Homo sapiens: one gene and its partners. The protein of the gene in region 1 purifies or fractionates together with the protein of each later gene. This does not show direct contact. Each region holds a gene or a part of one and is shown on either strand. Other genes may lie near its edges.

What was found.
Region 2: the proteins of SF3A1 (region 1) and RBM17 purify together in Homo sapiens (affinity purification with mass spectrometry; 5 studies listed by BioGRID and IntAct, with this or other methods). This does not show direct contact.
Region 3: the proteins of SF3A1 (region 1) and DHX15 purify together in Homo sapiens (co-immunoprecipitation; 5 studies listed by BioGRID and IntAct, with this or other methods). This does not show direct contact.
Region 4: the proteins of SF3A1 (region 1) and SNRPB2 purify together in Homo sapiens (affinity purification with mass spectrometry; 5 studies listed by BioGRID and IntAct, with this or other methods). This does not show direct contact.

What each region holds. Positions count from the first base shown.
Region 1 is NC_000022.11:30,339,868-30,346,904, forward strand, and holds part of SF3A1 (splicing factor 3A subunit 1), read right to left. Parts: intron 6,653-7,037; coding exon 6,445-6,652; intron 5,324-6,444; coding exon 5,066-5,323; intron 3,013-5,065; coding exon 2,938-3,012; intron 2,484-2,937; coding exon 2,333-2,483; intron 2,019-2,332; coding exon 1,825-2,018; intron 946-1,824; coding exon 828-945; intron 515-827; coding exon 329-514; intron 1-328. UniProt on the Homo sapiens protein: Component of the 17S U2 SnRNP complex of the spliceosome, a large ribonucleoprotein complex that removes introns from transcribed pre-mRNAs.
Region 2 is NC_000010.11:6,084,777-6,092,069, forward strand, and holds the start of RBM17 (splicing factor 45), read left to right. Parts: upstream 1-4,257; 5' UTR 4,258-4,417; intron 4,418-4,569; exon of another isoform or gene 4,570-5,195; intron 5,196-7,293. UniProt on the Homo sapiens protein: Splice factor that binds to the single-stranded 3'AG at the exon/intron border and promotes its utilization in the second catalytic step. Involved in the regulation of alternative splicing and the utilization of cryptic splice sites.
Region 3 is NC_000004.12:24,581,554-24,588,562, reverse strand, and holds the start of DHX15 (ATP-dependent RNA helicase DHX15), read left to right. Parts: upstream 1-4,008; 5' UTR 4,009-4,169; coding exon 4,170-4,240; intron 4,241-7,009.
Region 4 is NC_000020.11:16,739,989-16,743,064, forward strand, and holds the end of SNRPB2 (U2 small nuclear ribonucleoprotein B''), read left to right. Parts: intron 1-336; coding exon 337-425; intron 426-857; coding exon 858-1,017; 3' UTR 1,018-2,576; downstream 2,577-3,076. UniProt on the Homo sapiens protein: Involved in pre-mRNA splicing as component of the spliceosome. Associated with sn-RNP U2, where it contributes to the binding of stem loop IV of U2 snRNA.

The DNA of each region.
Region 1 (7,037 bases):
GTGGCACAGTTCCTGCCCCATTCCAAAGAGCTCATGGTACTCCAGCCATCAATGCTCTCCTTCTAAACAGCCACAGGAAGCCCTTCCAGCTAAAGCCAGAGCTTGCTCTGGGATGTCAACAGGCACATGGCATCTCCTTCAGTGTCTGCCTTTGGGGAATTTCTATGGGGAGTTCTTCTGGAAAGTGGGGAGTTCTCTTGCAATATCATAGAGTGCAACTCTCCTCAAAAGCTTTTGTTGACCTCAATTGTTGCTTTCTATGTTTGCTTAGAAGAAGATGGCTGTAATTCGGAGACTACCATGGGCTCTCCTGGAACCCCCACCTCACCTGGTGCGTACACCTCATCATCGCTCTGCTTCTCACGGATGGAGCGATCCCGCTGCTCCAGCCAGCGAGGGTCAAGAAGTCCAATGCGCATGTGTTCCTGCATTTTGCTGGCGGGGATCTTCTCCCCAGTAATGGGGGACACAAGATACTCATCTGGAGCAGGGGCTGGAGGCAAGGGCTTGGAGGCTAAAAGGAAACAGATGTTTCAGTAAGAACACTGGTGGGCAGCCACCTGAGTTAAGAGGGTGGTATTTCATGCGTGCATCATTCATCAAGGCATCTATTCAGTGCCACTCTTGTACCTGGCACTGTGAAAGGCACTAGGGCACCAGAGATGACTGGGCCCTGTTCCCACCATGAAACCTGTAACAGACGGGCTTGCAATGCTTTTACAATAAGCTGCACCTCAAGCCCTCCTAGAAAGACGGGTGTGAGGAACACATGAGGGCACACAGGACTTCCTGGGCAGCCCGAGGGTTGGGAAGCAGGCCCTCCCTACCTTTGGGATCATAATCCTTGCGGACAATGACTTGGTCTGGAGTTGGGGGCAGAGGTGGAGGCATGGGTGTCTCTGGGGGTGGGGGCACTTTCTGCCCTTCTTCTTCATCATCTGAACCCTGAAAAGCAAAGCAATGGCAGGACTCAGAGAGGGGCTGAGGCCACCTCCCTGTAGCTGAGCCTGGCAGGTCTCTGGGTGGCAAGGAGCCTTGGCCTCTGCCAGCCAGCGTCCATGTGCTAAGCCTCCCAGGGCAGCTGAGGCCAGCCGGCAGCAGGCCAAGCTGCTTCCTCACAGCATGAATGGGAGTGCTGAGGCCACGGTCCTAGCACTCCTCCCAGGCATTTCCAGCAGCTGGCACCAGGCAGTCCCAAGAGGCCAAGGGCACTTAACATGCCGGGGGGGGACAGTGCCAAGGGGGCGAGGGGTGGGGGCGGCGAGTCGCCAATCAATGGTAGCTGCTCACACAGCAATGCTGGGAGGGAGAGAAAAAGTCATTTCCCACAGACAGGGGCCCTTTCTTCTCAGGCTGTGCACAAATTATTTCCGAGTGGGGGAGAACAGTCTGGTTCTGGAGACTCCATGCCTGCTTAGAGGGCCTGGCTTGAAGGGGGTAGGGATGCCTGAAAGGAAGCGTGGGCTACATTTAGAAAAGCTCTGGGAGCTTGGAGCCCAGCTGAGAGCTCAAAACAGAACAGGGTAATGCAGTGAGTTCCCTGAGGGCTGGCACGAGGCAGTGAGAGCAGGCTGTCCGGGCCAGGGAGGCGGCCACAGAACAGGTCAGCACAGCTTTTAGATCCTTGCCTATGAATGAATCTTTGTTGCCGGAGCTGGAAAGAGGCTCTGTGCTGCCTGGACTTGGGCAGCTGTATGGCCTTGTTCAGGACCCACGCCTCCTTTCAAGGCTCACAGGGGAGCTGGATCTGACTGGTGGAGAGCACTTCGACCTCCTGGGGCTTCAGGGGAAAAGGTCATCCTGCAGGCCTGCCCAGCAGCTTACCTCATCCATATCTTGTACTTGGGTGTCCTGGTCCAGCTGGGAAGGAGGCTCCTCCGCCTTCTCCTGTTTGTCATCCTCCTCATCAGACTCGACCTCCATCTCAACTTCCTCACTCTCCCCAAACTTTTCATAGCGCTCCTGAATGAGGATTCGGGCCCCCAGCTCCTCTGGCGTGGTGGGGGGAGGGAAGTTCCCTAGAGGGTGAGCCAGAGGCAAAGGTATTCCTTATCAAAGACCCACCTATTTGCCCTGTCTGAGCTCCCCAAGGGCTGGGGCCATGTCTGTTTTCTCTCCAGCTATCTCCAGAGGCCCATCTAGGGTCTGGCAAGTACGTATTGAATCTAAGTTGGGCAAAGTGGTAGAACTGAAGTCTTTTGGGAGCAGGGAGGAGACAGCACTGATAAAGCCCTCTGAGAGATTCTACTGCTCTCTGGGAACACCTGCACCAGGTTTCCCGGGAAGTCTGAGTTCCTGGCTCCCCATCTGGAGTCACTCCTCACAGACCTACCTTGCTCATTGGGTTGGAAGTCCACTGTTTCCACCACCACAAAATCATGCCAGTCGATCTGAGCATAGGCCACCCGCTCCTTCTCCTTCTCCTCTTCTTCCTTCTTCCTCTCACGTTCCTGGAATTTGGCCCATTCCACTCGGTAACACACCTGCAGAGATGGGAAACAGCTTGGTGCTACGCTGAAGCAGGGTCTGCTCCTGATGAGGCTACCACCTCCAGGGCTTTCATCAAAGTCAGCGCCTCCTTCGGAACAGAATGGAAGTATGGTTCCAAACTATGGCATTTGCACCTGGTTCCACCCAGGTGCAGAGTTGGGACAGAATGAAAATTCCACCCTCTGATCTGCTTGGGAGCTGGCCTTCTGTCTTCTAGCTAGAGTGGAAAAGAGGGAGATATATTGAGGCTGAGAGCAAAGCAGAAAGTTGTGGTATGTTGGGAAGCATCCGGACTCCAGGTTTCTTTGGCCTTTGTAGCCAACAAAGCCTTTTCTCCCACCATTCCCATGACTGGAACATAACAAGGTCCTGCCTCAGAGACTGTTTTCAGACATAAAACAGAACCAACCACCAGTAACTGGTTGCAAGAAATGCTATTCAGTTTACCTGATCCAAAACTTCTCGGGGGTTTTCAGCCTCTTTCTTGAGCTTTGAAAATAAACCTTTGGGTGGAATCAAGATCTGAAATACAGAAGAGTTAAAGCAACTGTCAGTGCTTTACAACGCAGTACAAAGAGGCAGCCTTCCTGGGCCTGTGATAAAGCACAGGAGATGAGGAAGCATGGGATTCTGTGTCCCAATCCCAGCTCCACTTGGCTGTGGGACTTAGGGCAAGTTACTTAACCTCAGTAACTTGATTTCCTTCTCCAAAATAATGGCACCACCACTCAAAGTTGGCACCATGAACTTAAAAAGGTGGCTTCGAGGATTAGCAGGAAAGCATGCAAAGCACTAGCCGATTACCCAGAACACGGTCAGTATGAGACGGCTGCTTTCATGACACTGACCTGCTCTCATCCTTTCAAAAACACTACGCAGGTCCCCCCTGACTATCCTATTCAGAACCGCAGCGTACTTGCCCCACCTCCCTCTATTTCTGCTCCCTGCTTTCTCTCTGTAGTATTTAGCACCATGTAACAGACACTGACAATGCACTTGACTCCTCCTCACTAGACTAGAAACTCCATGAAGACAGGGATTTCTCTTTTGTTCACGATTACATCTCCAGCCCCCTGAATAATGTCTGACAATGTATACTTACTGAGAGAACAAATGCTGCCTTTGTTCTAAACAGCCCCAACAGCTTCTACTGCCACTGGCAAAGTGGCTCGGCCCTATCCCAATCCTCCTTCCACCTCTACCCCAAGAATCTATCTGCTCAGTCTTCCATGGCTAGAACAGACAGCAGGAACCTCAAGTTACAGTGGTAAATGCCAATACCCAAGTTCTGAAGAAAAAACAGGAAAGTAACAGAATAAAAAGTGATCTGGGACCTTTAACCCTGGAAGCAGTCCACTGGGAGAAATTAATCCAGGGTTCATTTAAAATTGATATTGCATATTTATAGAAACCCTTGGGCCTTGGGCCTTGAATGACTGTTATTTTAGCTACCATACTAGCTTCTGGATTTGGTCATTTTCTAAACACACACATTGTTAAAATTCTAATTATGTACTTAAAAGTGAGTAGAGTTAGGAAATTCTCAAGTCCTTTCAAGTCAGATCTTTGAGGTGTTGTTTCTGGATATGAAGAAGAGATGTACAGACCATCCCACTGTAAAGGGAAGGAAAACAACCTCCATGACATGTGTAGCAAGAAAAATGTGCCACAGGCAAAGCTGTCAGTGCACTTTGCAATAAATTAATAATCTGATTATTTTAAATGCCAGAACTGACTTGTCCTGATTCTTGATTGCAGCTCTGTCAAATGATAATTGAGTTCTTAGGGTCTGGAGTAAAAATGCCAGAGCTCAAGCCCCAGCCCTGCCACCTCCTAGCTATGTGACCCTGGCCATGCTAACTTCACTGCACCTCAATTTTCTCTTCTGTAAAGTGAACATAGCAATAGTGGCTACCTTATAGGCTACCGGAGATTAAATGAGAAGATGCTGCATACATAATTTCTTAGTGATGTTAGTTATACTGACTTACATGACATCAAAGTGTCTCTCAACACCTATTTAAATGCTGTTTCCAATTTAAGGCACTTTATAAGCTGAAGAACCAAAGTTTTAGGGTCAAATGTGGTTTAAATCTCAGCATAGTACTTACTAGCTGACAGACCTTGAGTACGTGACTTCACCTTTCTGAGCCTGTTTCTGCTTCTCAAACATGGGGGGAAAACACCTCATGGCTTCTTGTGAGGACTAAGTTAGGTAAAAGGAGGCAACTCTTAAAGGTTGGCTTCTTCTCAGGGCCTTACTAGGCAACTGAAAACGGAAATGCACTTAAAAGCAGCAAGCACCACGTGGCCTTGTCACATAGCAGGCAATCGCCTAATGGTAGTTAGCAAGCATGTATTTCCCTTCTCTTTAGAAACCGGCAGTCTGTGTTGCACTTAAAGAAATAACTGAATAGAAATCAAGGTTTTACATTAAACTGGGATTCAAAACATTTGCTCAGAGGCCCCATGGAGAAGCGATGTCCTTGTAGACAGTGAGTGGACACAGTGCTTCCAAGCATAAGATGTTTTCCTTTCCTGGGCCCAGGACCCCAGCCCCATCCTGCCCAGGCACCTTGGTGTACTGTTCCACTAGCTTCGTGAAGTAGTTGAAGAGGCTGTGCTGTGGGCGGAGAAAGTCAAACTGGTAGTTGCGCTGCTCTTTCTGCATCAGCTGGGTCAGAAACTGGCGCCCATTCCTGGCCACAAACTGAGCCGTCAGCTTCACCACATCCAAGTCGAAGGCTGAGATAGAGGGAGGATCAGCAATGAACTCAAACTCAGGAGGAGGCTCTTTGGGCACGATGGTCTCTTGGATTACTTGGGCTTGGACCTAAGATGCAAAGGGAGTATGAGGCGAGAGGCACAGGGGTGAACAGGCTCCAGGGGAGGGGAGGGGAGGGGACATGGGCATGCACCCCTCAGCAGGATGCTGTGAACCTCTAGACTTCTGTTAATTATGCACACACCACTAGCACTTGGTGTGAGAGAATTCTAAATCACAAGAGCATTGACTTCCCAGCCAACTATGGCCTCAACTTCCTGAATGGCTGAGTGAGAACCATTCCCCTCTGTATCTCTGCTCCTGCCTTGAAATTGAGGGCCAAAACTGGGTGACAGAAGATCCAACAAGAATAGGACTTATTAAATCCCATCCAAGAGGGATGGATGTGCAGAAGGCCTACATGTGTGCAGAAAACCCCACTGTACAAAGTGTTTCCATGACCTCCGCATGAACGATGAGGTAGCACAGGTACTGTGAATCCTCTTTACAGATGAAGAAACTGAGGTAGCCTGAGGTCCTAGGCCTCATTGCAACGCAAGGTCTTAGAACCTGACTTCAACCTTTATAGCCCACTGCAAAAGGAGGGACTGCCTTTTCCACCATGGTTCAGGAGTGCAGAAGGCAGGTCTGGACAGGAGGAAAAACATGTCAGCCTCTCTCTTCATTCATAATCCTAATAGTCCCTAGTGCTGGGCCTCAGCACAGGGAAGGTGGTATCAGGGGAGGCCAGGATGGAGGGGTCCTGGGAAGAAGAGATAGAAGGGAAGGGATGGCACAAGGAGGAGCCCACAGGCCACACTGCATCCTTCAGCACAGCCAAGTAGGAAGTGCTGCCCTCACATCACGGCACTGCCCTCACACCCTGAGCAAGGCCTTGAATAAATCACACGTCCCCCAACTCTCAGGTTCCTCATACAGCCTCTGTGAGGAGTCAATGAGACAAGACTCCTGAAGTACCAAGCACAGAGCTTGACAAGCAGTGCTCGGGAAATGCCAACTAACATCAGTACTTTGCTGTCTGGGCCTCGGTCTGCCTCTGAGAGATGGGGATAACGACCTCACTTCTCTCCCTGGGTGGTTGTGAGATTTGGAGTTAATTGTGTACTCCCTCCCTATCCCTGTTTCCCTCTCAAGCCCTGCGTAAGTGAAGGGGGCACTGGGCTCCAAACCTTCTGGGGCAGCTGCTGCTGGGTGGTCTGCTGCTGCTGCTGCATGACCTTGGGGATGGCGGCGGACGGCTCCTGAGCCTTCCCTTCCTTGAACTCGCTGACCTTGTGGCGGTAGTAGGCATGGTAAGGGTCATTGGGGTTCAGAAAGTTGAACTTGGGGTTGTTGATCTCGTTCTGTCGGATCCTAGCTTCAAATTCAGGCCCGTTTCTGGAGGAAGAAAAAACAACAAGAATAAACACCACTCCCTTGTGCCTGCTGTGATCTAGAACACTGCCCATTGGAACGTCCTTCTTGCCACCACCCACTGCTCAAACCAGCCCATCCCTCAGCAGACGTCCTCCTCTAGCTTCCTGGCATTGGCGATCAGTGCCATCTGCCTCATTCAGCTTGAACCAGGCCACCTCTGCCACAGGGTTTCCCTGAACCCAGTCATTCCTTAGCTCCTTTTCCAGTTCTGCCATTTCCAAAACCATCTAGGCTATCGCTCATTTCTTTTAATAAAATTTACTTTAAAAAAAATCTATTTAAGATGGAGAATACATATTACTACTTCAAATAAAAAAAAATCAGTATGCCTTTACCAACAAAAGGT
Region 2 (7,293 bases), on another chromosome or scaffold:
TTATTTTTATTTTTCTCTTTTTTGAGACAGTCTCACTCTGTAGCCCAGGCTGGAGTACAGTGGTGAGATCTCAGCTTACTGCAACCTCTGCCTCCCAGGTCTGAGCGAATCTCCTTCCTCAGCCTCCTGAGTAGCTGGGATTATAAGCGCCCACCACCATGCCCGGCTAATTTTTGTATTTTTAGTAGAGACGGAGTTTCACCATGTTGGCCAGGCCGGTGTGGAACTCCTGGCCTCAAGTGATCCACCCACCTTGGCCTCCCAAAGTGCTGGGATTATAAACGTGAGCCACCGCGCCCAGCCTTCTTTCATTATTTTTATTACAAAAGCAATGCAAGCATATTACTCAGAGATAAAAAAGGCAAACAAGCAAAAAAATTTAAATAAAGAATCCTGATAATCCCTATCTGGAGCCAGCCATATTGGCAAATACCTTATAGATACTTTGTATATATTTATAAATTTTTAAAACAAAAATGGGATCCTTCCATGTAAATTATTTGTCTCTCAACATAATTGAATTTCCCTAAGTTGTTATTGTTCGCTAGTTTGTTCCTATATTTTTACTATTAGAAACCTTACAGAGCAGGAATAACTGTAGAGAATGATTTAGAAAGACAAAAAAAGTGAAAAAACTTTAAAAAATCTGTGAGATGGGCCGGGCATGGTGGCTCACACCTGTAATCCCAGCACTTTGGGAGGCCAAGGCGGGTGGATCACTTGAGGTCAGGAGTTTGAGACCAGCCTGGCCAACATGGTGAAATATCATCTCTACCAAAACTACAAAAATTAGCAGGGCGTGGTGGCAGGCGTCTGTAATCCCACCTACTCAGGAGGTTGAGGCAGGAGAATTGCTCGAACCCAGGAGGTGGAGGTTGCAGTGAGCCCAGATCATACCATCGCACTCCAGCCTGGGCAACAAGAGAGAGACTCCATCGAAAGAAAAAGAAAGAAAGAAAGAAAGAAAGAAAGAAAGAAAGAAAGAAAGAAAGAAGGAAAGAAGGAAAGAAGGAAAGAAGGAAAGAAGGAAAGAAGGAAAGAAGGAAAGAAGGAAGGAAGGAAGGAAGGAAGGAAGGAAAGATTTCTGAAATGGCCGAAGCTGCTTAGAGATATACATGCCTGTAATCCCAGCACTTTGGGAGGCCGAGGTGGGCGGATCACCGGAGGTCAGGAGTTCGAGACCAGCCTGGCCAACATGGTGAAACCCCGTCTCTACTAAAAATACAAAAAGTAGCCGGGCATGGTGGCGGGCACCTGTAATCCCAGCTACTTAGGAAGCTGAGGCAGGAGAATCGCTTGAACCCGGGAGGCGGAGGTTGCAGTGAGCTGAGATTACTCCATTGCACTCCAGCCTGGGTGACAAGAGCAAGACTCCGTCTCAAAAAAAAAAAAAAAAAAAAAGATACAAAAAAGGAGACAAAAATCATTCTCCACGGTGCACCGAAAGCATCCCTACACACAGAATCCTTGGGAATACTTGTTTTTGATCAAATTATAATCTGATCAAATTGTCTTAACTAGCTTGTCTTCCCTCCAGGGCCCACACCCCTTTCTTTTCCTGTTTCGGGGTCCCCCGGTTCCATCCATGCTGCATACTGTAGCATTTCACCCAGCCTTTCCTGCCAGCCCAAACACCGCCCTTATCTTCTTTCTTCCTGGAACATCTGCCCTGCTAATTCCCAGTTTCCGATGAATTCTACCATCTGCTGCCTGCCAGCCTCCTGCCAGGCGCTGAGCACAGCTGGAGCAGATCACACGACTTGTTTACGCAGGAGTCACTACCGATGTTTGCTCTGCAGCCCCGAGGGGGCGCTCCAGCGCGTCTGTCTTGTCCCTCTTCTAAAGCTCCACCGTTTTGTGTGCGCTTTCTGATAGTTGCATGGCCTGGGTTCTGTTCCCCCATTGGGTTAAGCTTTGGATTCTCGGTGCATAAAATAAAGATGATATTTGTTACTATTGACAGGAAATGGAGGCAAGCATGAGACTGCTCACGTACTAGGAAATGAAGTAAGGCAGTTTTCCTCCTGGAAGTTAAACTAGAAAATTCCTAAACAATGGATGTGATTGCATCTATGGTCTGTAAACCAAAAAGTTACTTGTGTATGTATGATGGAATGATTTGGGAACAAAGGCACAAATTTTCAACCAAAAAGGGAGGAAGGAGTGGTCTCAGACTGCAGAGTGGAGACGCCAAGCAGATTAGGGAGTACAGGTAGACAGCAGGTTCAACCTGGAGGAAGTCCTGCAGCTCTGGACCTCCTAATCAGGGCTTTTGCACCCCCACCGGTGCTTTGATCACGGGGTGGGGAGAGACCCAGTCTAGACACCTTCTATCTTTGCCCTTCTTCCTTTTTCTGTTTACACGCTATTACTTTCTGCTTCTTTTATTGACCAAGTACGTCCTTCTGCTTCTCACATTTTTATTTTATTTCCAGTTTCTTGCACAAGTGCTTAATTCATTTAGCTTTTTCCAAGTTTTTAATTGATACAAAAACTTAAAACCATGAATTTTCCTCTTAGTACTCTCTGAGCTAAATCCCATGAGTATGTCATTTTCATACTTTTCTAGATATTATGTTATTTTGATTTTGTTTTCCTTTTTAGTCCAAGTGTTATTTAAGCATTTAAAAATTTTCAAGGGGTAGGCATGTTTTATTTTCTGTTTTTTCATTAATTTCTACTTTTATTGAATTGCTGCAGATAATATTACCGATATGATTCTACTTATTGGACTATGTTAAGATTTTTCTCTGTGGTTTAAAATATGACTAATTGTTGTGAATATTCCTTAGACACTGGAAAAGATGTAATGTCTATTTAGGGGACAGTGTTTGATATATTAGATCTATCATAGGAATTGTATTTTTAGGTCTTCTCAATCCCCATTTACTTTTTGTACTCTTCGTCTGGCAAGGAGTGTGCCAATTATTTCTGTCTATTCACTCACTCCTACAGTGTTTGCTATGAATAATGAGATTATGTGATTTGGTGCAAAGATTTTCCTATTTTTCCTATTTTTTTCTTGATTGTGAATTGTGCTCCTCAAGATTATAAAATGTCCTTCTTAATCTTACTTAATGCTTTTTGCCCTGAAATCAACTTTGTAGTAAGCGGTTTGTGATTCCTGATTTTTTTAATTTTTTTGCATATTCCTGGTATATCTTTTCCAATCTTGTATTTTCAAACTCAGAATAACGTTAGCACTTTCTTGTATACAACACTGAGTTGCATGATGGTTTGTGCTCCTATCTGAGATTGTAGTTTTTTAGTAGGTAAGCTTAGGTCTATATTTCTTCTTGTGAGACATTTGGTCTTGTTCTGTCATATAGTTTGGTTACGCTTTCTGTTTTGTAACTTTTTAAAATATTTCCCTATATATATATTTTTTTTGCTGTGGTTTTGTGTGTGTGTGTGTGTGTGTGCATGCATGTATGTGTGGGTGCATGTATGTGTGGATTATTTGAAAGCTTTGTAGTTTTGTTCTGGGTTACCCTCAGAATCATACCATCCCATGACGTCCTTAATCCTCTATTTCTTTAGATTGTCTTTTGTCTCTCCACTGTATTTCTTTTTTCCCCCTTTTCCCGTTTTCTTAATGACTGGATTTTAATGGATTATAGTAACTTTCTTGGTATACTCCTTCGGACTAAGACGTCTGCTTAAATCTCTACTATTTGATTTATCGGCTTGAACTCTATTTGACACCCAATTAATTACAGATGTAAAAATCATATTTACCCGAAGTCCCACTTTCCCTTTCCCTCCCTGCTTCTGTCAGCGACGTCGTTTTTAAAGACCGAGGCTTTATAGCATTGACATTCTTTTCTGTACCCCTAATCGCGGCATCTGTTTCCATAATCTTACGCTTAACCTCGTGCTCCTTGCCATCCTTTTGCAGCATCTGGCCTATGCAGACTTATTTTCAACTTTTTGCTTATATAGGAGTGGCTTTGAATGAATGAGATCGAGGGGCCTGGAGGGACTTCCCCCACCTCCCCTATCAGAAAGCCCGGCCTCGGACCACTTCTCCTCCTCACCATCTGGGGGCGCTGCCGCGCTCCCCAAGCCTTGTGGAATTTCGAAAATGTGCGCCAGGGCGACACCTCTTGATGGTAAGAAGACGCCGGCGGAGGGGAGCGTGCAGTGCGGTCCTCCCGCGGGCAGGGGGCAGTGCGGCAAGGCGCCCTCGGCGCAGGCGCAGAGGCCGAAGCAGGCGCAGGCGCAGGCGGGGCGCAGGCGCGGGCGCGCTCTCCCGGCAGCCCGCGCTCCCTGACCCCGCGCCGCCGAGCGCCCTGAGGACTCAGCGAAGGGTGGGCGCCGCCGAGGCCTCCTGCCGCTGGCGGGTTTCCGCGGAGTGCCGCCCGGCTCCGCTCTGCCGCCGGCGCGGCTCATGGGCAGAGTCGGCCGGGCGGGCCGGGTAAGTGGCGCCCCGGCGGCCCCGGGTGGGTGGCCTGGCGGGACCTGAGGCGGGCGCGCCTTCCCGGGAGGCGCTAGACGCAAGCCCGCGGCTTTAGGCCCGTCGCGAGGGGCGGAGGCCGGGCCAGCGCAGCCGGAGCCTCCGAGGGTCTCAGTCCCCGCGGCGGGCGCTGGTCTCTCCACGCGGCTGCGGCCCGGTACCCTCCGCCCGCCGCCGCCTCTGGTGACCCTGGCCCTGACCTTCTCCCTCTTCCCTTCCTCCTCCTCCTCCTCATGTCTGCCTCGGGCTGTTTGGTGCTGAAGAGCGTTTCTTCTCCGTCTCGTGCACCGCATCCTGACGAAATTGTCTGGTCACCAGAACCGAGTAGCCCGTAGCGTGTCCCCCCTGGCCCTGCACGGTTGCCCCTCTCTGGGGCTCGGAGCCGGTTCCTCCCGGGGTCTCAGAACTGGGAGTGCAGACGTTGGCGTTTCTCAGACTCCGGAGCTGCCCGGGACAGGAATGCAGCCCTAACCCCGGCGTCGCCTCGGCTCGTGCAGTTTGAGCGGTGTTTCAGCGCTCACGTCCGACCCCAGGCAGTCTTTGAGCTTCGCCTCTTGCCCCGAGAATGTGTAATGATCGGAGAATGCAGGTGGAATGAGGTTCTGCCCCTGCTTGCAGGAGTTTGGTTTCTGGGAAAGCAGGCGTGAAAACCCAGGCCCGGGTTGATTTGAGAAACGCAAGTGGGGTCTGGAAGGACCTCTCTTGAGAGAGGAGGTCATGCTTATGTTGAGTCTTGAAGGTACGTTGTTAGATGTGAGAGGTGGGAAAAAGGCTGCCGGCGGAGGAAGTAAGTGCGAAAGTAGCAGAAGCGAAGCCCCGTAGTGCGTTCTGGAAGCTGCAGGTTAGGCAGAAAGAAAGGTTTGAGGAGGGGCTGCTGTGTTTCCAGGAGTAGTCAGGTCAGAACATGGAGGTTTCTTGAGAAGCAGTAAAGAAGCGCCATTGAGGGTCCTTATTTTGCTAGAGCCAGGCATATGGATGGGAAATAGGATATTCTAGATAAGGGCAAGATTCGCATATACTCAAATAGATGGGTAGATGTGCACTGGCTCCCCGCAGCAGATGGAGTTTTTAAAAGGATGCAACACAAGTTTCCACATTTTTAGTTGTAAAGGCTGCAGACATTTTGATCGTAATGACAGCTTTTAGGGAATATGGGGTAACAGTTTAGTGAGCTAAACGAGAGGGCTTTATTTTTAGAGTTAGTTAAGCAAGGTGCTGCGTGCTGTCCAGTTTATAACAGAGCAGGTTGTGCGGTTGTGGAGCTCTGCGGAACCAAAGGCAGCCTTTCTGGAGGCTCTTGAGAGAATTGTTGTACACTTCCAAATGCAGCTTTATTTAAAGTGGATTTCTTTTTACCTGGTTTGTTTTAACTTACCTTCCCATTCTCCCCTGCCTATGAATTTTTCAGACCTCCTCCCAGCAGGGAACAGATGATCCCAGGCTAGTCATCTCTCAAACCTTTCATAATAGTCAATAGTGAAGGAAGTTCTGTTATTCGCCTAAATTACAGGTGACTGTAGTGGACTGTGTTTGCAATACTAGCCTATGGCATTTTGGTAACAGCCAGAGGGTGGGATTGAATGGAAAGATTAAACTGACAAGGGCGTCAGATGGAGGTATGGGAAAAATTTTTTTTTAATTCTTTAGAAAGTCATGGTAGATCTTATACTTGAGGTAGATGCTTTTTAAGCTGTATTTTTTGCGGACACCAAAGTGCACCACCCCTCCTGTTCCTTTCTGGGTATATTTGCCATATATATGTATATAAATATATAAATATTTATATATTTATATATATTTATATATTTTTATATATATATTTATATACATATATTTTTTTCTCCTGAGACAGAGTCTCACTCTATAGTCCAGGCTGGAGTGCAGCGGTGTAAGTCGGCTCACTGCAACCTCCACTTCCCAGGTTCAAATGGTTCTCTGGCCTCAACCTCCTGAGTAGCTGGAATTACAGGCGCTCGCAACCATGCTCGGCCAATTTTTGTATTTTCAGTAGGGACGGGGTTTCACCATGTTGGCCAGGCTGGTCTCGAACTCCTGATCTCAAGTGATCCTCCTGCCTCGGCCTCCCAAAGTGCTGGGATTACAGGCGTGAGCCACTGGGCCCGGTCTTGCCATATTCTTTAGGCTTCAAAGAGGCATGCTTTGTTTTATGATGCATGAATATCTGTTTAGTGATAGAAATATTTCTTGCTAACAAGCCTGCCTCTTTAGGTGCTCAGAACTCAGACCTTGACTCGTTATTGGTTGTGTGGTGGTGGTAGTTTTTTTCTCCTTAATTATGGTTTGCAATTTAAATTTTATCCTACTTATCATAAGTTATGTGCTTAAAAAGCAGATCTGCAGATCTCACTGTTTCATAATAATGTGATTTAAATAGGTGCACTAACATTTTTCATCCATTCACTAACACATTTAAAAAATATTAATAGAGCCACTTAACAATGTTCAAGCATGGTGCTGAGCTAGAGATACAAAGCTGAACATAAGAAACACCCCTGCCTTTAGGGGGCTTACACTGCAGGAAGAAACCGCTGTGTGAAACAATAGGCAGCATAACTTGCCAAGGTTGCTGTGATCTGAGTATGCTTGAGGAAACCAGTTGGGGGGGGTTAGTTTTATGTGGGGGCAATAGTCACTAAAGGCTTCTGAGATGCACTTGAAAGATAAGTAGGTGGGGTGCTTCTGAGAAGACTCTTCCATGTTCTTTTTCCTGCCAGTTGCACATGTTTTAAAAAAATACTTTCCAGCTTGGGTGGAATCTTGAAAACTCACCATTCTTCCTTCTGGCAGAACCATGTTTGTTATGTTTCCTAAGAAAA
Region 3 (7,009 bases), on another chromosome or scaffold:
GCTCTAGAGTTGGACTGGGTTCAAATAATCCAAATCCCCACTTGTCCACTGAGAGTTCTGTAAACTAGTTCTCTACATGGACAATGCAGAAGTTTTATCAGTTCATGTTCATCTTGTCAGACTGGGAGAACTTATCTTCAGTAACCACACCTTAGACGAATAAAGTGGAACGAGAATATCTATTTATCAGCCGCAGCAGAACATAGCAATTAAGCACACACACTGTCTGGGCTGAATCTCAGAACTGTCATCTTGGCCAAAATACTTGCCTCTTTGAGTAACAGTTTCCTCAGCTGTAAATAAGAGTAATTCATTGGACTAAACTTGAAGTTGCTGTAAGTCTCAAATAGGCTCAAATGTGTAAGGAACAGCATCTGGCTCATAGTGCTTTGTATGTGTTTGCTATTAGCAATTATTTTTTATTAATTTAGGTTGACTTGAGACCCTGCAGCTGGTTAGCTGCATAAGACATTTCCTCCAGGTGAGAAAGTCCATGTCATAGGCCAGAGGGTTGTCTAGTAGAGAAAGAGTAACAGTAAGGGAAAATAGGATATTATCTGGAAATATTTCCAGCCAAGTTTGTGGAGGGCCTGGTGGGTGCCTTTTCTCTACTCCAGGGATAATGATGTCTGAAAATCCAGGGTGGATCATTTAGACCTAGAATTCTACCCTTCTTCCCAAGGAGTGTGCACATCCTGGCAGCCTCTGGCCACTTGTTCCCCTTATTCTAGATTCCAGAGAGGTCACTATCCTTCAATAAGTAGGGCCTTTCTCTTTCCTCCTTTCCTTCTTTTCTTCCTTTCTTCTTTCCTTCCTTTCTTCCTTTCTTTCTTTCCTTCTTTCCTTCCTTTCTGTCTTTCTCTCTTTCTTTCTTTCTGATGGCGTCTTGCTCTGTTGCCCAGGCTGGAGTGCAGTGGCACAATCTTGGCTCACTGCGACCTCAACCTCCCGGGTTCAAGTGATTCTCCTGCCTCAGCCTCCTGAGTAGCTGGGATTACAGGCATGTGCCACTATGCCTGGCTCATTTTTGTATTTTTAGTAGAGACGGGGTTTCACCATGTTGGTCAGCCTGGTCTCGAACTCCTGACCTCATGATCCACCTGCCTCGGCCTCCCAAAGTGCTGGAATTACAGGTGTGAACCACCACGCCTGCCCAGGGCCTTTCTTTAATTGTTCAGGTCACAACACAACTGATGAGGTTATGGTTTTCTTTAGCTGTAACCTAGGCCCAAGGGAAAAGTCTCATCACCTTGATTTCAGTTCCTCTTTCATCATTTATGAGAGGCTGACATCTGAGTGGAGCACTTCTGCAGGTAGAATTCTAACTTTTTTCCCTGATTATTTCTCCAAAATTTTAGAGCACTTTATAGCAGTCATCAAACTGGAAACCTGAAGACTGAGATTTTAATACTTCAAGTGAAATCTGTATTTTATTCTGACTTTGATACCAACTGATTGTGTGAACTTCAATAAGACCTAGGGGTTCAGTTTCCCTCATTTGTAAAATTAAGCAAAAAGAGAAAAATCAGATGGAATCCAGTGATTATACATCATGATCTGAAAAAAGTCAACACAATTGTCCCTCAGTATCCACTAGGGATTGGTTCCAGGAGAAACTGCCGACACTAAAGTCCGTGGAGGTTCAAGTGTCTGATATAAAATAGTACAGTATTTGCATATAACCTATGCACATTCTTCTGTATACTTAATCATCACTAGATCACTTATAATACCTAATACAATGTAATTGCTATGGAAATAGCTGTTATACTGTATTGTTTAAGAAATAAGAGCAAGAAAAAGTCTGTACATGTTCAATACAGATGCAACCATCCATTTTTAAAGAAAAATATATTTTTGATTTGCAGTTGATTGAATCCAGGGATAAGGAACCCACAGATAATAGAAGGCCAACTCATCATTTTAATTTCAGTTTTTTCCTATACATATGTAATTATGATAAAGTGTAACTTATAAATTAGGCACAGTAAGATATTAACAACTAATAATAAAACATTTATAACAACATACAGACAGTCTTGACTTACAATTGTTTGACCAGATTTTTTGACTTCACGATGGGTTTATCGGTATATTAACTGCATGTTCAACTTACAACATTTTCAGTTTACGATGGCTTTGCGATGGCCATCACCCCATCATAAGTCAAGGAGAATCTATACTGTAATAGAAGCTATGTGAATGTGGTCTTTCTCTCAGAATATCTTACTGTACTGTGAAAGCAAAACCAGGGACAAAGTAGGGACTATGGTACATTTAGGATAGAAAGTTGTACTGAATATTTCACAAGTGAAAAATATACTCATTTTTCTTTGTGTTGACTTTCCAATGTGGATTTGGTACAAAAAAATAAAAACCCTCCTTACCAATTGCTGGCTGGGTGCAGTGGCTCACGCCTGTAATCCCAGCACTTTGGGAGGCCGAGGTGGGCAGATCACTTGAGGTCCGGAGTTCAAGACCAGCCTGGCCAGCATGGCGACACCTCGTCTCTACGTCTCTACTAAAAATACCAAAATTAGCCGGGCGCGTAGCCGGGCGTGGTGGCGGGCGCTTATAATCCCAGCTAGGAGGGAGGCTGAGGCAGGAGAATGGCTTAAACCCGGGAGGCGGAGGTTGCAGTGAGCTGAGATTGCACCACTGTCCTCCAGCCTGGGCGACAGAGCAAGACTGTCTCAAAACAAACACACAAACCCCTCATCAGTTGCAATATTTAAGTTGCATTTAATCCTAGCAATTGCAGTCCTGAGATTTGGATAAGAACCAGAGTATGGTCTTCCAGGGCAGCCAAACCAAGCCATTCCATGAACAACAGAGATCACCCTGCTGCAGATGGTCCACAGATCTTTTCTTGTGCATTTCTTCTGGGAACAAATGCAACTGAGGAAGCAGACATATTCTAGGGGGAGAGATCCACAAAAATCCTTAGAGTCATCTTGCCCCACCTCCTTGTTATGGCTTTAGGTACAGCCCTTATGGCTAGGAGATGTAACCTTCCTCAGCCTTTGCGTCTACGTCTACAAAATAACAACTACCTTGCAGGGTGTTATTTAACACTGCGAAAGTGCATTAATAGGCACAGAAAAACAAAAAACAAAAAAGCAAATTGTGCCCTCACTGCGAATTCTCTGTATTCTAGTTAAAAACATCTATAGCTTGGGTGCATGGTGTCCGTGCTGGGCAAGAAAAGGGCAAAATAGATCATGACAAGCCTTAACATTTTCTCACTTCAGTTTCCTCACTGCAATTGATTTTTTTTTTTCTTTCAAGTCGGAGTCTTGTTCTGTCGTCCAGGCTGGAGTGCACTGGTGTGATCTCGTCTCACCGCAACCTCCGCCTCCCAGGTTCAAGCGATTCTCCTGCCTCAGCCTACCGAGTAGCTGGGATTACAGGCGTACGCCACCACGCCCAGCTAATTTTTGTATTTTTAGTAGAGACGGGGTTTCACCGTGTTGGCCAGGCTGGTCTCGAACTCCTGACCTCGTGATCCACCCGCCTCGGTCTCCCAAAGCGTTGGGATTACAGGCGTGAACCATCGCGCGGCCCCTCACTGCAACTGAGGGTAGCGCAGTGGCCGCAAGTTCCAGATCTGGAGTTACTAAATAGCTGGGTTCCAATCCCGGCTCTGCCACTTATTAGCTGTACGATCTTCATTCGTTTCTCAACCTCTCTGGGTCTGAGATTCCCTTAAAGCCGGGGTAATAGAAATGAATAGGATTTCCTAACTAGGACTAGACTTTCTCAATTTCTTGACTCAGAGGGGCAAGGATAGCCTGAAATGGAAAGTGAAGGCCTTCAGGTTCTTCCTAACAGCCGCTCCGAGGAGGGGAAAGCTACAGGAAGAGGGAGGAGACCCAAGAAAGGTCGGACCAATGAGGCAGCGGGCGGGACAGGAGTTCCCGCCTTTGGGCGTCGTGCGCGCGCACCTCGCTCACACGCACACTCGCACGCACGCACGCTGCGGAAGCGCGCGCGCGCGCAGGCCCAGCCCTCGTCGCCGCCGCCATTTTAGCTGTTGGTTCCGGCCGCACCGTGTGGGCTGTAGTAGCGGGAGGGGTGGGGGTCCTCCAGAGTTAAGTGGCTGTCCTCGACTGTGCCCATACAGCAGCCAGCTTTCTTCCTTAATAACTGCCCGTTCGAAGAGTGCGAGGATGTCCAAGCGGCACCGGTTGGACCTAGGGGAGGATTACCCCTCTGGCAAGAAGCGTGCGGGGACCGATGGGTAAGCCAGGCCGGGGGCGCGAGGCGGCAGCTCGGGCTTTGTTGGGGTCCTGGCAGGGAGCGGGCCGGGGCTGGCCTGGCCGAGCGGGTCCTGGAGCCCGAGCCTTTGTTTCTCTCTGGGCTGGGTTCACTAGCGGCGGGTAGGAGAAGCGCGGCGCCCGTTCGGCCCGGCAAGGGCGCGGGGGGTTGCGTGCGACGGGGCCGCTGCCCAGCCCAGTCCGGAGGGTGGAGAGGCCTGCAGTAGCCATGAGGGCGCCTCCTCCCCCAGGCCGAACCGAGCGGGAGTCATTTGCGAGGGCGTCGGGCGGGAGTGAACCGCGGACCTCGTGGCCTCGGTTCCCGAGGAAGGCCTGGAGCCGGAGGAGAGGGTGGGGGAGGGCGCGGTGGGAGTATTCGCTTCCAAGGGCAGCAGGCACTTCCCAGCCAGAGGGGCCGTGGGGAGGGCCTGGGTGGGGGCGCGGCCAGGCACTCCAGACGGGAAAGGCGGAGGGCGGAAAGTGAGAGCAGCGCGTGGATCATAATGTAGGCTGGGATGGGGGTGGCGGGAGTTGAGAGAAGCCAGCAAATAGGGAGTTCTCGGGGGAGGTGGGAGTAGAGGACCTGCCGGGAGAAAGGAAAACGTGGAGTAATATACCTGATGGGCTGGAAGGCTGGTGTTTTGGGGCGACTGAGTTTATAGTTTGGCGGGAGAGAGCGTGCCTTGGTCCATTCAAACACTTCAAAGTAGATACTAGCAAACTTCCGCTCTCTGCCTACGCTCCCGCCATCTCCTGTATTTCCTGCTTTGGTTAAAACTGGTTACTGAACATCGTCCCATGGGGAGGGATTAGAAGGCATTGTTTTTTTTTTTCATCATTTATTTTCTATGCATGTCCCACTTTTCTTCATAAGTAGCTTTTGAAATACAGGGATCATGTTCAAAACGTGTTTTTAGTATTTATGGCGAAACACCGCCCATGTGGAGGTTGAGAGTTGAAATACTTACACAAACTCTTGGTGTTCCAGATTCCTTTCCTTAAAGGTACAGAGGAATTTAGCAGTTAATTTAAGCAATTTCGTGAAAATCATTTCTTGTCCCTTGTGTGTTTTCATTGATGAAGTACAAAGACCTGTTTGGATAATTCAGGCAAAACCCACAAAAGCCCGAGTAGCCAAATACTTTGCATAATTGTATCATTTTATTGTGTACTTGTGATACAGAATCACTGTGTCAAGTCACCTGTATAGCTGTTTTGAATTTTTCAGCTAAAGTTCTTCATTGAAATTGATTTCCAGGGATATGTTTAGTGTCATTGTAGAGTATAAGCCAGGATAGGGTGTACTTTTTGAGGCTTTGCCATATGTTGAATTATTCAATAGAAAGCAAAAGCATGTCACATTTTAATTTTGTGAGTTATTTAGTTTACGATATTAGGCATTGTAAAAAAGACAATGACATTGTAAGACAGACTCTCTTTAGGCTATCACCCTCCCCCACCATTACGCCCCACAAAACGTTAATACCTCTGAGCTGTATGTCACAGACTCAGAGCTGGAAGCAACTTAAAAAAGACTATACGCGGCTCCAATCAAGGAATGAGAAGTGGAGAACAGAGTTAAGGTGGCTTGTGCAAGTTTACAGCAGGATCTGGAACCCTGCCTTTGTCATTTTCACTCAGCAGCACACAGTTCAGTACTGTAGTTAAGAGTCATTACAGCCTATTTTAATGACATTTATAATGCGTTGGTAAAGTAGGGAACACTTAGTTCTTGATTTCTCTAAGGCAAAAATAAATTGCTGTCATCTGGAACTGATGTCTCTCACAGGAGGTCAGATTGGAACAAAATATTCTGGGAGGGAATGAATGAATTCATTTGTATTTGTGCATATGTGCACCATTTAAAATGTTCCCCTTGGGATTAGTGGTCCCACCATATGTATGTGCGATTGTTTACTTTCTCTTGCAAAAACAGATATCCTTAGTAAAAAGGTTGACTTTTGGAGTCTAATGGTAGCTTTATGATTCCCTTGTATATTATTTAGAATTTGCCTATGGATAAAGGAGAGTTCATCTTTGGAATAATGCCCAAGTTATAAGAAATAGTAGAGGGAAGTTTTTATACTCATTTCTATGTCATTTGAGTGCCATTTATCCTTGAACTGGTTTTATTTAACAGTGGACTTAAGGTGTTTATCGGCCTCAGAATTTTTTCATACTCGATAATTTTAAGTCACTTGTTGACTGCCATGCAATCCTGCAGATTTTTTTTTTCCCTGATAAGCAAGTGGTTTTATTGGAGAGCATAAGCTTGTCAGTCTTACAAACTCCACTGCCAGATAGGGTTTCTGCAGTACTGAGAAGGGAAGGTAATTCAGTGGGAGATTTCACTTATATTAATGCTCCCAAACTATATAAGGCTTTATTTACTCCTGGCATATTTTAACTTTGAAATCAGGTGAAGTTATTATAGGTTTCTGTTGCATATTCTGGCCTCATTTCTTCTTTTTGTCAACCCACAGAATCTTCACTATACAATTACCGAAAGTAATAATTTTCCATACTTACTGTTGAAGTATGGAAAAAAGTTTTCGATGTTAGGGGCGTTTTTCATTTTGATGTTGGTTTTTGATATTACCACCTGATAAGAGTTTTTTCTGTTAATTATGGGAAAGTAAAGCTAATGTATTAATACTGTGATAACATTTGTGGAGCATGCACATTTTCACTACAATCCTGTATGGTAGATGAGGTTAAATGAACTTGCCACAGGGAACATAAGAAATGTTTAT
Region 4 (3,076 bases), on another chromosome or scaffold:
AGCTACGGAGGGGTGACATTGCTGGCCATCTCTAATTTTATTAAGATCTTTGATTATGTTATCCAGGTGACAAAATTCTCCAATCACGACTCACCTCCAGAAGCTTAAAACATAATTGTTTCATATACTGTTAAACACTTAAGAGATTTGTAATTTTCCAGACTTTCAGTGTCTTTACTTGAATGTCTGCCTTGCTTAGTTACTGTAAGGTTTTGATTTATTTCTCCAGTGTCATTGTTTTTCAGCTTTATTGTTTGATATAGTAAGATTTCACATGCCTAGCTTACGATGCTGTTTAAACTTACAAGCTAACTTTGCCTTTTTACTTTTTAATAGGTCCCTGATTACCCTCCAAACTATATTTTATTCCTTAATAACTTACCAGAAGAGACTAATGAGATGATGTTATCCATGCTGTTTAATCAGTAAGTTTTTTCATAAATAAGTCTGTTTCTGAGAGCTTCCTCACAGGACAAGTAGTACTTCCGTGGGTTGAATCCATTTATCACACAGCAGTAATTCCTTACAGGTTCATTGATTTGGTTTGGGATGAATCATGAATTGGAGCCAATTTGCCGATTTAGCAAATACAAAGCTAAATTTCCTCTAATGTTTGAATTCTTAACTCTGATTGATGTAATAACAAAGCTTTGATATAATATAAAATAGAATTAGTTTATTCTTGCAGTTCTTCCATGGTATTAATTACACATGAGGCTCTTCCGTCTACTCAGTATTCTTGGTTAGAGTATGGTTATTTTTCTTGGACTAGTATTAGGAAGTTGCTTAACAAATTTTAACACAAAGCAAACATTTATGTACTTGCTGTATACATGAATTGTTTTTCTTCTTTATAGGTTCCCTGGCTTCAAGGAAGTACGTCTGGTACCAGGGAGGCATGACATTGCTTTTGTTGAATTTGAAAATGATGGGCAGGCTGGAGCTGCCAGGGATGCTTTACAGGGATTTAAGATCACACCGTCCCATGCTATGAAGATCACCTATGCCAAGAAATAACATTTGGGATAGTCGTCTTTAAAAGACTTGGTGTTATTTACAGTGTTTGTTTTGATAACATTTGGCTGGGTCATTTTAATAGTTAGAGATGAGGAGGAGTAAAAGTGAAATTTTTGTGAAGGACTTAAATTATCCAGTGTTTCTTTAGCCTTGGTGAACTATGAAATACGAAGGCCTTAATTTTGTACAATAAACTTTTATTTGTATTCTGTGTATATAATGCTTTCTTGATTGACCCATCTCCCTATCATCAAATGACTTCTAGTCTAGAACACACTTAAGGTTTATAAACTTGTGTAATAGGATGCTTTTCTAGTGTTACTTTGGAGGAGCTAATTATACAACATCATTGAACCATTCAATAAAAGTTAAGTAAAATTAGATCACAGAAGCTAGTAGATGACTGTTGTATTAATGGTAACAATGATTGTTCTGGGTATTAGAAGAAAATGAGACCCAGGCAGGATCTAAATTTGATCTTTGTATCCTTTTAAGAAATGAATATATTATTTTGCTGCTAGTAGGGATTCCACAAGTTTTCTTCATTCAGTATTAAATAAAGGCTGTTCTTACTGTTTACTGAGAAAACAGAAAGGGAATGCTATCTTCACACTTTGCATTTAATGCTGTTTCCTTCATGAGGCAGGACTGTTCTAAGGTTAATATGCAATCTCTTTATTGAAAGACCTCCAGGGTAAAAATTTTTTGATCTATAGTCTCTTTTCCCCCTTAAGACAAATAGACTGATTAATAAAGAGTTGCCAGTGCTAAGCTTGCTACTTCTTTGTAATTCTTAAACACCAATGTTCAAATATTTCCAAAGCCCATTTTCTTTAGCTTTTGATTTATGTTTAAGGCTATTGATTCAGTCCTCTGCTGAGTAAACCATGGGTATCTCCAGAAGTGGACAATTTGTTTTTACAAGTATGGTACATATTAATAGTAACAACAACAAAAAAGAAAACAGTACTTATTTTTCTGGTGTTCCTGTTTTAGTATTCCTTGAACAAAACCTTTATCACTTGGAATTTTTATTGTCTACTTATGGAAAGACTTTTAGACTTACGTAGACAGTATCACATCACTCTTATGCATACATAAAGAGGAAAAAAATGTTTCCTATAACTTTGTCACAGTTAGTCTGACTCTTCTGAATAACTTTTTTAATCCCAGTAGTCAAGCTCCTGTACTTTTGTAAAATATATTAACAGTGAATTACTAGAAAATGGGCCATGTTCTTGTATATTACAGTGATGTCAATTGCTGATAAATTTTCTAACTGCTTACTCTCGGATACCGTACTTGTCTAAGAACTGAAAATAATTCACAGACTGATCCCATGCCCAGTCCTGGCCATGCTTTGAGTGGCTGTATTGGAGCAGAAAAGCCAGGGTGGCTCACCTGGGGTGAGAATGAGGGGGGTGAATAGTAAGAGGGGTCGTGTAGGTCTTCTTCAGGATTTGCTTATACTCTGAGTGAAATGGGGGACTATTTTAGAGAATTTTTTTAAAGTGGGTTAGAATTTACGTACAATAAAGTTCACCCATGTTAGTGTTCCATTTGATGAGTTTGGGCAATTGTATATAGTCATGTAATAATCAGTACAGAGCATTCCATCACCCCCAAAATTTCCCTTGTACGCCTTTGCAGTCAATCTATTCCCCTCTACCCTTGGCCGTAGTCAACTACTGATCTGCTTTCTGTCCCAACAGTTTCGCCCTGTCTGGAATGCTTTGGAAATGTATCTGCTGTTGCCTATATCAGCAGTTCCACCAATGAATGGGCATTTGCGTTCTCCAATTTGAGGCTATTAAGAAAGTGGCTATGAAAATTTACATACAAGTCTGGGCATATGTTCTATTAGATTTCAAGCAGAAGAGTGATAGTTTGATACAATTTCTAATTTACATAAAAGTTGCAGAAATGGTACACAGAACTTTCATAACACTTCAAATTAATCATTAATGTTTCTAGGCTTCTGGGCTATTTGAGGTTGTGATTACATTGACCTGATACCCCATTATTCCATGATACTTCAATGTGTGTTCTTAAGTACAAG